2 separate regions of the Homo sapiens genome follow, and region 1 is linked to region 2. The links come from fine-mapping of genetic effects on gene expression. A gene starts in region 2. The other region holds a variant in brackets. All regions are shown on one strand. Distances are from middle to middle.

The links.
Region 1: its variant is fine-mapped to the expression of SHANK2 in visceral fat (GTEx, PIP 0.92).

The regions. Positions count from the first base shown.
Region 1 is chr11:70,815,925-70,821,436 of GRCh38, forward strand. It overlaps SHANK2 (SH3 and multiple ankyrin repeat domains 2), which reads right to left. Exons shown (of 26, transcript NM_012309.5): 12 at 4,440-4,758. Among named protein-coding and RNA genes, the nearest start is that of SHANK2-AS3, 44 kb to the right of the region's middle. The variant A/G (reference allele first, on the strand shown) is at 2,752.
Region 2 is chr11:71,250,363-71,255,362 of GRCh38, forward strand. SHANK2 (SH3 and multiple ankyrin repeat domains 2) reads right to left here and starts at 2,215. Exons shown (of 26, transcript NM_012309.5): 1 at 2,063-2,215.

The DNA of each region.
Region 1 (5,512 bases), 430 kb before region 2:
CCAGTCGCCTCCCTGCCCAGGACAGTCGGCCTCCTCCTACCTGGCCATCTCTGCTTCCCCTGCTTCTTAGCCCACACAGGCCTCTGCCACCGGGACAATAACACCTGATACCCTGTGCTCCCTGCCCCATGGCAGCCAGCGGGGTCTTTCTACACTGTCCACAATAAGGATGAAGATGAAGACGACCCTAAGAGTGGCCGACGTTTCTGCAGAACCGAAGACTGTCTATGAGCAGCTGTGGATGTCAGTGCAGGCCAGGTGCTGAAAGCCACTTAATCCACCCAGCACACTCGGGAGGGGGTGAAAGTCATCAGCCCCACTTTACACAGGAGAAAACAGAGGCACAGAACCAGCAAGTGACTTGCCCAAGGTCAGCTGGCGGGTGGGTAGAGCCAGGTAGCCCTGGCGGTCAGCACTGCTTGGGGGATGTTCAGCACCGGTTGCTCAGCATGGGCTGATGGGCAGCTGCTCCACCCTTCAGACAGGAGGAAGTGGGGAGGGCTTTCCCCTCCACGGCAGGGAGAGCACGCTGTCACTTATGCTTCTGATGGTAACCAGAAAGAGCTCTGGGTCACCCAGGGCCCCCAGAGGCTGGGAGCTAGCAGCCTCCCTGAAAGTGGCCCGTTAGTGCCACATGGCCAGGGCCCGTTGCCCTAGGAAAGAGCTGGTTTTTCAGGAATAGTAAGGCAGGCGCACAAGGCATGGGGCTGAGCTTTGAGCTTCGAGGATGAACAAGGAGCAGAGGGGCTCAGCCACCTCCTGGAGCCTCCAAAAGGCCCTGGGTTGGGTTGCACAGTCCTGTGATCCACCATCCAGCATCACCAGGGCTGGCCGAATGAGCGTTTCCCTATCTCAATAAAGGCCACTTCCACAATGGGGCCTCGGTCCACAGCCAGGAAGCAGACAGCTCTAGCCAGGCCCCCCTCCCCTGGCTGTACCTTGTTTGCAGGACATTCAGACCAAGTGTGCTCAGGGCACCAGCCTTTGCACCCCGGCTATGTCACCTGAATGTCCCTGCGCCCAGCATGGGCCTGGGTAACTGCTCCATAAGCAAACAATGTGCAGTGAACTGGCTCCCTTCTGTGCCTCTCACCGTGCAAAGACACTTCTGCCCCCCGAATGCATATGGCCCTATGCAGGGACAGAACACAACAGTGGCACCTGCATGCCCCACCCTCATCCCAGGGGACCTCAAAAAGATGCCTGGAGAAGCATGCCTGCCTCCAACTCTCCATCCCACCTGGTCGCCTCGAAGGCAAATGCTCACCACTGCTGTCCCATAGGAGGGGACGTCAGTGCCACTGGCAGGTCCTAGTTAGGACACGGGTCTTAAGGGAAGGACCTCTCAGCTCATCAGTGCCCATCCAGAGGGTTCCTCCTACAGCACAGCTATTGCTACCATTGAGGATGCTGAATCCTGGACAGATGGATATGGACAGGGAGGCTGTGAAGGGGTGGGGAAAGGGAAGATGGAACAAGGCCAAGAAAGAAGGGACTGACGGGTCAGGGCCACCAGGTAAGAGCAGTGCCCCTCGACTTGGGACAGGCAGTGGCCCACAGTTAGGGGGACTGGCTGTCCTGATTTTAGCACTGAAAGTCCCACATCACAGGCAAACCTGAATGGTTGGTCACTCTACCAACGGTTCTAGGTGACAAAGGGGACAGTCTTGGCCGAGCTCTGGGTCTTGGGTTGGACATGGACCTGGGCTCTAAGAACCAATGTGGAATGCGCACTGGCTGGACAAGGTGCTGTGGGAGGCGGCCACCCTGAACGCCTTCAGCTGATCTTGAGAAAAACCTGAAGTTGGTCTTTCTGGGACCCTTTTTTGAGATGGAGTCTCGCTCTGTCACTCAGGCCGGAGTGCAGTGGTGCCATCTCAGCTCACTGCAACCTCCGCCTCCCAGGTTAGAGCGATTCTCCTGTCTCAGTCTCCTGAGTAGCTGGGATTACAGGCATGCGCCACCACATTCAACTAATTTTTGTATTTTTAGTAGAGATGGGGTTTCACCATGTTAGCCAGGCTGGTCTCAAACTCCTGACCTCAAGTGATCTGCCTGCCTTGGTCTCCCAAAGTGCTAGGATTACAGGTGTGAGCTACCGCACCTGGTCCCTTGTTTTATAATTGACAAAGATTAGGCAGATTGGGTTTTACCTGCCCAAGGTTATGCAGCTATACAATGGTACAGTACAGAAGCGTGTATGCAGGAGGCCAGGCAATGAGCATTTGAGGCAGGCTGGCCACCATGATGACCACACACACACACATACACAATGATTCTCTCTCTAACATGCACGCGCATGTCTACACACCAGCATGCACACAGGCAAATGCACACAGACCAAAAAAACACAAAAATGCATGCACATACATACACAGGCATACACAAACACATACACACATGCACACACACATGTGCATTCTGTCCCCCGTTCCTCACACATGAACAGGGAAACAGGGATGGTCAGACCGCAGCTGCAATACACCCGGCTGCTTCTCTCTTTCCCGAGCCACATCTAGCACATCTAGTCTGCAGCCAGCTCAAGTCCCTGGCCACGCTGCCTTTGCTGTCTTATTAGATTTTGTACTGGGTGAAGGGGACACACTCTTTTTAAAACTGTAGTCAGAAGTCTTGCTAAGTGTGTGAAGTGGAATTGGCTGCCTCGGGGGAGCCCTTTAATTTAGCTTCCCATTGTTCTCAGCACCTGGGACTCCTCCCTTGGGGTCCTTCCAAGCAGGAATCTAGACCAGA[A/G]GCAGCTGGACCTCCTTGTTTGGCTCTGGTGGGAAGCGTCTGTGGGCTAAAGGCCAAAGCGTTGAGAGGACGTGGGGTCTGCCAGCTCTAAGAGGATCAGGCCTCGACCCTGTCTAGGGGCCGGGAGAAGTGGGCTCTCACCGGCATGTTCTCCCCACAAACTCCTTGGCTGTGGCCCCAAAGCCTGGGCTGCTGGTCATAGTCAGGGTGATCAGCCCCTCCTGGGACCACGTGAGGCACTGACCCTCCTCAAACTCACACGGAGCTTGCCAGGTGGAGCCCCTGGGGGCAGGGGTGGTGGCGGTCTTCCTCCCTGACATCCCTGACCTTAGCTGGCAACAGAGCATGACCCAGGCCTGCAAGACTCCCCGCAGCCAGGCTCTGGACCCCGAGTGGCTTTGAGGCCAGGGAGGAAACAGGAAGCATGTAGGATGGGGGCGAGGGTCAGGGGCCTCAGCACTGAATGCCGACATCACCAAAAACATGGCAACGGCCGGGGAAGCACGGGTCCAAGGCCCAAATCTGAGGGAGTGCCAAGTCACCAGATGCCAGAGCCAGGGGCCTGTGCCGAGTCCTGCCCTTGCTACGTTCTGGCTGTGTGACCTCGGGCTCCTCATAGAGGCGTCTGCAGCAAAGAAGCCAGCACAGTGAACTCCTGGAGCAGCTGTACCCATGAGAATGTGGAGGCATCGGTGGCAACGGCCACTGCCCCTGCAGGTGCAGCTTTCGTGGCTGGAACCGACACCAACCCTAGCACCTGGGGCCCCGACAATGAGCTGATCCCTGGGAAGTCTCTTCCTCGACTGAAAATTCTGGGAGGTGGCGTGAGAAAGGCAGAGACCTGCTTGGGAGTTGGAGCTCTGAGTGCAAATCCAGCTCCCCTGGCTGCTTGGGAGGCAGGAGGGTGGGGAGAGACCCAGACCTGGAGTTGGACGCCGAATGGGGTGCTGGGCAGGAGACCACAGGCAGTTCCCAAAGTCTGCCCTATGCTGCCCATGTCCTTGTCTAGGAAATGGAACGAGGCACAGGCTCCTGTCACCTGGGGCTGCTTCAGAGACTGACAGACATGCCCTCTGTGCTCCTGCCATGCTGGACCCAGGCCTGCAAGTGCTCCCCTGAGGGTTAGCGCTACCTGAGACCATCCCTGCAGCTGCTGAGACAGCCAGACGCCAGAGCCCTGAGCCGGCCTCTCCGGCCCCCAGCATTCTCCTCTGGGCTGGGTTTCTCCCTGCCACCCACGTGTGCACCCTCAATTTGGATAAGGTGTGTTTGCAGGCTTGCAAACATGGCCCTCGGGAGGGCACACACCCCTGACCAGGCTTGCAGCCCTGCCTCTCTCCCTCTTGACATTTCACTTAGGACCAAGAAGTCAGTACACAAGGAAAGGAAACAGGACCCGAGAGGCCAGCAGTATCCCCAGTCCACCCCAGGATGCTCAGCTCAGCCTGCACACCTGCCCCGAGCTTTCATCGTGTGCCTCCATGAGGCTCGGGAAGGTGACCCCAGCCCCCCAAGGGGAGACCGTGCCAGCAGGGACAGTGAGCAAAACTCAGGCATGAAAGTTTCCTCAACATCTGGGTTGGAATAAAATGGGCTTCCTGCTCAACTTCTGGGCCACCCCAAGTTGGAGGAGCTGGGACCCCCAGCACGTGGCGGTCTTCCTTCCCTTGGCGTCTGCCACTCCTTACCCGACATGCCAGAGAGGCTGCGGCCTCTTGCCGTCCTCGCCTGCGCCGCCCAGCCTGTTGAGCGATGGGGACCGGCTGCGGGGCCCGGGCACGTAGCTCCCAATGGTCTTCGCGGCCCCCTCGGGCTTGCTGGGCATCTGCTGCAGCAGCTGGGGTGACAGGCTGCGGTGCGAGGTGGCCGTGGAGCAGACGGCCCAGTCGGGAGCGCTGGCATTGAGGTTGTTGTCACTGTTGGAGCGCAGCAGGACCCGGGGGGCGGCCAGCGTGTTGGGGGGCCGCCGCCGGCGGTTGGAGTACGCCGGGGCCTCTCGGAAGGGCACTGGGGAGAAGGACATGGAGAGAGGCCGGTGAGTGCATCTGTGTCGTGGTCAGCTGGGTGGGGACCCTAGGGAGGTGCAGGCCTGCGTGCGTCCAAGCCCCCATGCGAGCCCAGCAGAGGGGAGCTGTGAGTTCTGGGCCGAGACCCCAGCTGGACTCCACCAGGCCCAGAACTCACCCCTGACATGGAAGCAGAGAGACAGGCTGGGGACGGAGAACATCTCCACGGCACGGAGCTCAAGCCAGTACTTCGCATGGAAGGGACGTGGGGTCTGAGCTTCCATCTGGCCTGGGAGACGTCCGGCTGGCTTGGGCATGTGTAAGGACGGGCCACCCCATCACACAAAGCAGAGAGGGCACTGAGCTGCCTGCCGCAAGATGCCTCCTCCCCACAACCTAAGTTGAGCCTCTGGGGTGGGCTGAACTGTGTCCCCCAAGTTCGTGTGTTGACGTCCTAAACCCCAGTTTTCAAAATGTGCCAATATTTGCAGGTAAGGTCTTTACAGAGATCATCTGGGTGGAGGGCCATTAGTGGGGGCCCTGATCCCATAGGATTGGGGTCCTTATAAGAAGAGGCGATGAGGACACAGACACACACACAGGGATGACCCCGTGAGGACACAGGGAGAAGGTGGCACCTGCAAGCCATCAAGAGAGGCCTCAGGAGGAACCAGCCCTGCGATGCCCTGATCTCAGACTTGTAGTCCCCAGGACTGGGAGGTGTAAATATCTGGTTGTTTTGTTGTTGTTGTTGT
Region 2 (5,000 bases):
CCAGGAGCTGAATCATTCAGGCACTACTGGGACACCCAGATTCCTATCAGGACAAGAGTCTCCCTCAAGCCCCCTCAGAGGACAGTGACATCCGGCATAGAAACCCACAGCTCCCACCTACCAATCCCCCTCTTAGAGCAGACACGACGGCTTTCCCTCAGAATTAACACTGAACCCAGATGGGGGCCGAGCTCGCTCTCCTCACTCCACCCCCACAGGCTCAACCCTATTAGGACCCTCAACCTTGTTTCCAACCCACAAGTAGTTGGAAAACTCCAAAAGCAATCGGCCCGGGGCTGTTCTGGACCTGCTGAACCCTCTGGGGCACCAGGCTCGGTTCCTAGTGCACAGAAGGGCGTCACTAACTATGTGATGCGGACCGCAGGGCACCGGGGTTAAGGCTGAATCTGCCAGGTCCTTTTCCAGGGGCGCAGAACTTCCCTTGTGGCTGGGTCGGCAAAACCGAGGCCCACATCCCAGATAGAGATCAAATCGCCCTCCCCCACCGGGGGACTTCCGAAATTACCTCTCTGGATCTGGAAGCTTAATTAGCTGATTGGCCTCATTAACGTTCGAACTTGAGTTTCAAACGAAAAAGAGGTCACTCAACTATCCAATTTACAACCTCGAATTTCCACCCGAAAACCACTTTATTTTCGGATGGCCTCTGAGGACGCCCAGGCCCCTGCCAGCAGCTGCCAGCCCCCGAGAGCCTTACGTACTTTCGCCTGACCCCCCCACCACCCACCCCTCACCTGCCTGGCTCGAGCGCCTTCTCAGTTCCAGGCGCCCCGAGCCCCTTTAAAAGATCGGCTGCGAAAACCCACGGTCACCTGCACCACCCTTTCTCCCTCTGGGTGCTCCAGCCCCACGGAAAGGCAAGCCTCGCCCACGCGCCCACCCACCTCGAGCAGGGTGTCCGCACGCAGACCCGCCTGGAGGGCGCCGCGCTGCACCCCCACGCCAAGCCCCAGAACCCTGGCGGCGAGGTCCACCCCAGCCCCCGCATCCCCCCGAACCCGGGCGGCGAGGCCCGCTGCGGTGGTCGCACCTGCTGGCTCAGTCCGGCGGCTCCAGCCCAAGTGACGAGTGCGCTGTCGGCGTCTCTGGGAGCGGTCCCCGCGCCTGGCGCCCGGGGCCGGGGCCACCCGGTGGAGGCGCCTGGGCCGCGGGCTGGGCGGGCGGAGCTGCCCGGCCGCCGGGGAGGAGGGATGCCCGGGCGAAAGTTGCCAGGGAAACTTGATCAACTCGAGCGCGCCGGTGCCAGCTTCCTGCATAATTCACGGACGGTGGCGGCCGGGCTGCGCCCGCCGGGTCTCCCTATCCCAGCTGGTGAGCACGGCGGGCCGGGGTCGGGCACCCGGCTGTGGCTCAGCGCGACCCCCGGGACCTGGGCGCCCGACCCGCCACCCCCGGGCCCGCACCAGGCGCGCCGGCCCCGGCCTCTCCGCGACAGCTGCTGCTGCCGCCGCGCGCGCCTGGATGGGAGCTCTGCGTGCAGGGCCAGGGTGACCGCAGCGGGGTCTCGGGGGACCTGGCGGCCACGGTTCGGGTCTCCGCCCCCGCGCGCCACCTGGCGGCCCCGCGCCGGCTCCTCCGCTGGGCTCGCTGGCCCGGGTCCTAGGGCTGGCGGGCGGTGACCCGGGGCAAGGAGACCCCGGGAGAGCGGGGGAGGTCGCGCCACACGCGCTGTTCCAGAGGAAGGGGCAGGACGCGCCAGAGACTACGTGGTCCATGCGCGCAGGAGATAAAGCGGGGGCTCCTTCCTGCGCTCTGCCCCCACGCCGCTTCCAAAGCTTTCGACACCGGCCCCTGCCCGGGAAGAAAGGCATGCAGGGGGAAGGGCTCTCTACGGAAAATCGACCCCCACCTGGACACGCGGCTCACTCCCCCCAGCGCCCACCTCTCCAGCCTCTCTGGGTCCAGGACTGCGCTTACCCGGTAGTTGGTGCTCCCGGAATCGAGATGCCCCCAAAATGCCGTCAGTGAGCAGGATCGGGTGCCCAAGGGCCACCTCCCGTCCTCCCCGGCCCGCGCCCTGCGTCCCCGGCCGCCGCCTCACCTGGCTCGGCGAGTCGGGGGCGGGTCCGAGCCCCCCGGGAGCGCCAGCGTCCGCGCACACCTGGATCGGCCGCGGGAACCCGAGCGGCGCCGCGCCCAGCCCCGCCGGAGCTCAGGAGCCGCCGCCGCGGCTCAGGTGCAGGGGGTGGGGAAGGACCCGGCCCCGCCCGGCGCGGGAGCTGGCTCCGGCGAGGGTGGGGGAGGGGCCCTCTCGCCGCCGAAAGGACGCGTGCGGCCCAGGACCCGCGGGCGACCCGACCTGGACCCCCACCCCCGCCCACGCCGCGGACCTCAGTCCCCCGCCCCGACCCCGCTCCCGCCCGCGGCTGCGGCTCGGGCGTGCGCGTGGGGTCTGTTGTGGCAACCCCGGGAGACCGCGGGGCGCCCTGGCCGCCTCTGCCCCGCCCCGGGCTGCGTGGCTCACGGACCTCCCCCTCCCTGGCCAAAGCCGGCGGACGAGAAAGTCCCTGATTTTTGTAAAGTCCGGTTCGGTCTGCACGGTTATCCCGAACGCAGCTGGCTCCCGCCACAGAGTATTTATAATAATAGGATTTGGAAATAGAGGCTGCCTGCACATCAAAACGTTTGCAGAGCAAACGAAAACTTTGTACCCGGGTGATACGCCGGCGTCTGCTGCCCAGGCCACCAGTTCTGGGGCGCCTTCCGCCCAGGGGTGCACAACGGTATCTCCGCCAGCTGCCCTCCAAGCCAAGAAAAGCCAGGGGGTGGGGTGGGGGGAGCAAAAGCCAACGGCTCGGGTGAATCCCAGAGGCCAAAGGCACCCTCCGGAGACTCCAGGAATCCTGTTATTATCCAGGACTCCGGATTGCTAGGTTTGCGGAAGCCCAAAGGGGCGGGTCCTGAGCTTGGAGCTGTGGCCGCCGTGTGAGCCATCGGCTGATAGATTTTCTCAAGGCCTTAATCATTCACTGGGAGTCTCCCCCAGTACGAGCTGCGTGTTTCTGAGTAAGCTCTTGAGGTCTCTGTGTTCTGAGTTTTCCAGTATTCTGGAAGGTGTGGGTGGGGATCAGAGTCCAAGCTGTGGAGTAGAACTGTCTCCAGAACCCTGGAGCCCGGCATTATGCAAACCCCTAACTGTGCCCCCTACATAGAGTGAGTGTGTGTGTGTGTGTGTGTGTAAGTCAGTCTATCTTACAGGACATGCCTGAGAGGTTTGCATGGGCTGGTGACTTCAACATACCAAAGGCAAAGTTAAATATTTGCTCTAGATACTTTTTTTTTTCAGCTTGCATAATTGTCCCACATTTCAAAGAAGTCTTTAAAAGCACTTAGGTTAAAAAAAAAAAAGTTGTGTTTGGGGCCTGAATATTTCAGGACACACATGGAATAAATATTGTAACTCCTTGAGGGCAGCTGCCTTATGTAAATGTCTTTCTCGTCGCTGCTTCCTTAAGCATACACTTGATAAAATATTTGTTGAATGAATAAAGGAGTCAATCAATCAAAAAATAATAATCCCCAAAACAGGAAGAAGGACGCCCTGACAGGATCCTGCAGGCATCCTTTGTTTGGCATGGAAGCTGGGGTGCCTGGGAGAGGTGTGAGCAGGACAATCGGATGTTCTTTGGGTTGGCCGGTGGCAGATGCAAGACCTGGGTTGCAGGGAGTGGGGGTGGGGGCTCTACCTTTCCATAACAGTCCATCAGTACCCTCCCCACCAAAGAAGGCAAGTCATCTGAATAAAGTGGTGTATTTACCCTGCAAACCCAGCTCAAAGACCTATCCTCAGGATATTTCCCTCCTCTCACCAGATTCCCACCCCTGGAACACCCCTTCCTAGGTTTCTAGAACCACTGCTGCAGATAGACCAGGCAGCTGGTCACAGTTCAATTGTGAACATTTTTCGGCTATCTCCATGCAAGGTTTAAGACCGATGCCATTATGCTATCTCCAAGAAATACTTCCCTAGGGACGCAGGCCTCTGCCAGCCTTCCACCCAAGTGGACACCCCTTGGGCCATCCCCCTCCAGTCTTTCTGATCTGTTAGCCAACAAGAGCGCTGTGTGAGAGCCCCGACATTCGGCATTTTAAGGACAGCATCCTGCTTACGCCCCAGTTTCTTTGTGTCTGTTTAGAGATATCCAGTTCAGCCTTGTGCTCCGATGAAGCAACATCCTTCAAGTCTGTAAAAATCTCTTATGATCCCAAAACAAAGAAAATCAAGGTTACAGGTGATGGATACACTAATTTCCCTAATTTGATCATTACACATTGCATACGTGTATCAACATCTCACACTGGACCCATAAATACGTACAATTATGTGTCAACTAAAAGTATTGACAGCCAAAAAAAAAGGCTCTTATGAAAAGGTTCAGGGTCAGATAATGCTGCCACAGTGCCTTTATTCACATCTTAACGCTCTGAGCGGGCATCTCAGGTTGAGGGGAACACCTACCCCCCGCCGCTCATTTGAAGTAGGACCTCTTTTGGCATTCTAATTTCTGGGGGGCCCATAGCCACACACACCACCAAGTGCCTTGTTTTAGGTTCAGTTTAGGAAAAGAAGACATGACCCTCCTGGCTTCCTGGTTTCAGAACCCTCCGGTTTTGTTTCTGGAAGCTGCCTTCCAGGATTCACCAGGTTTTGCAGAAAGGAGTAAGCTTTTCCATCTGGTCATCTTGTCTTTTTTTCTTGTCCAACCTGAACCATGAAACCATCAGCCACATCTGTGGAGTACACGCTGTGTGGTCCTGAGCACGCTAGGACTTTCTGGGAAGAGTAACTGTTTTATAGAGAACTGGAAACTGGGACACCATACCATCAGGGATGTGAGATATAGCCACCTTTTTGGTCCTGGGGAAAACATTATAAATATTTTGTGGCTTAGATTAACCCAGATGCTCACTGCCTTCAGCAGCAGTCCCTTTCTCCCAGAGAAGCTCCTGGGTTTGGGGCTTAATGTATTAATAGTTGG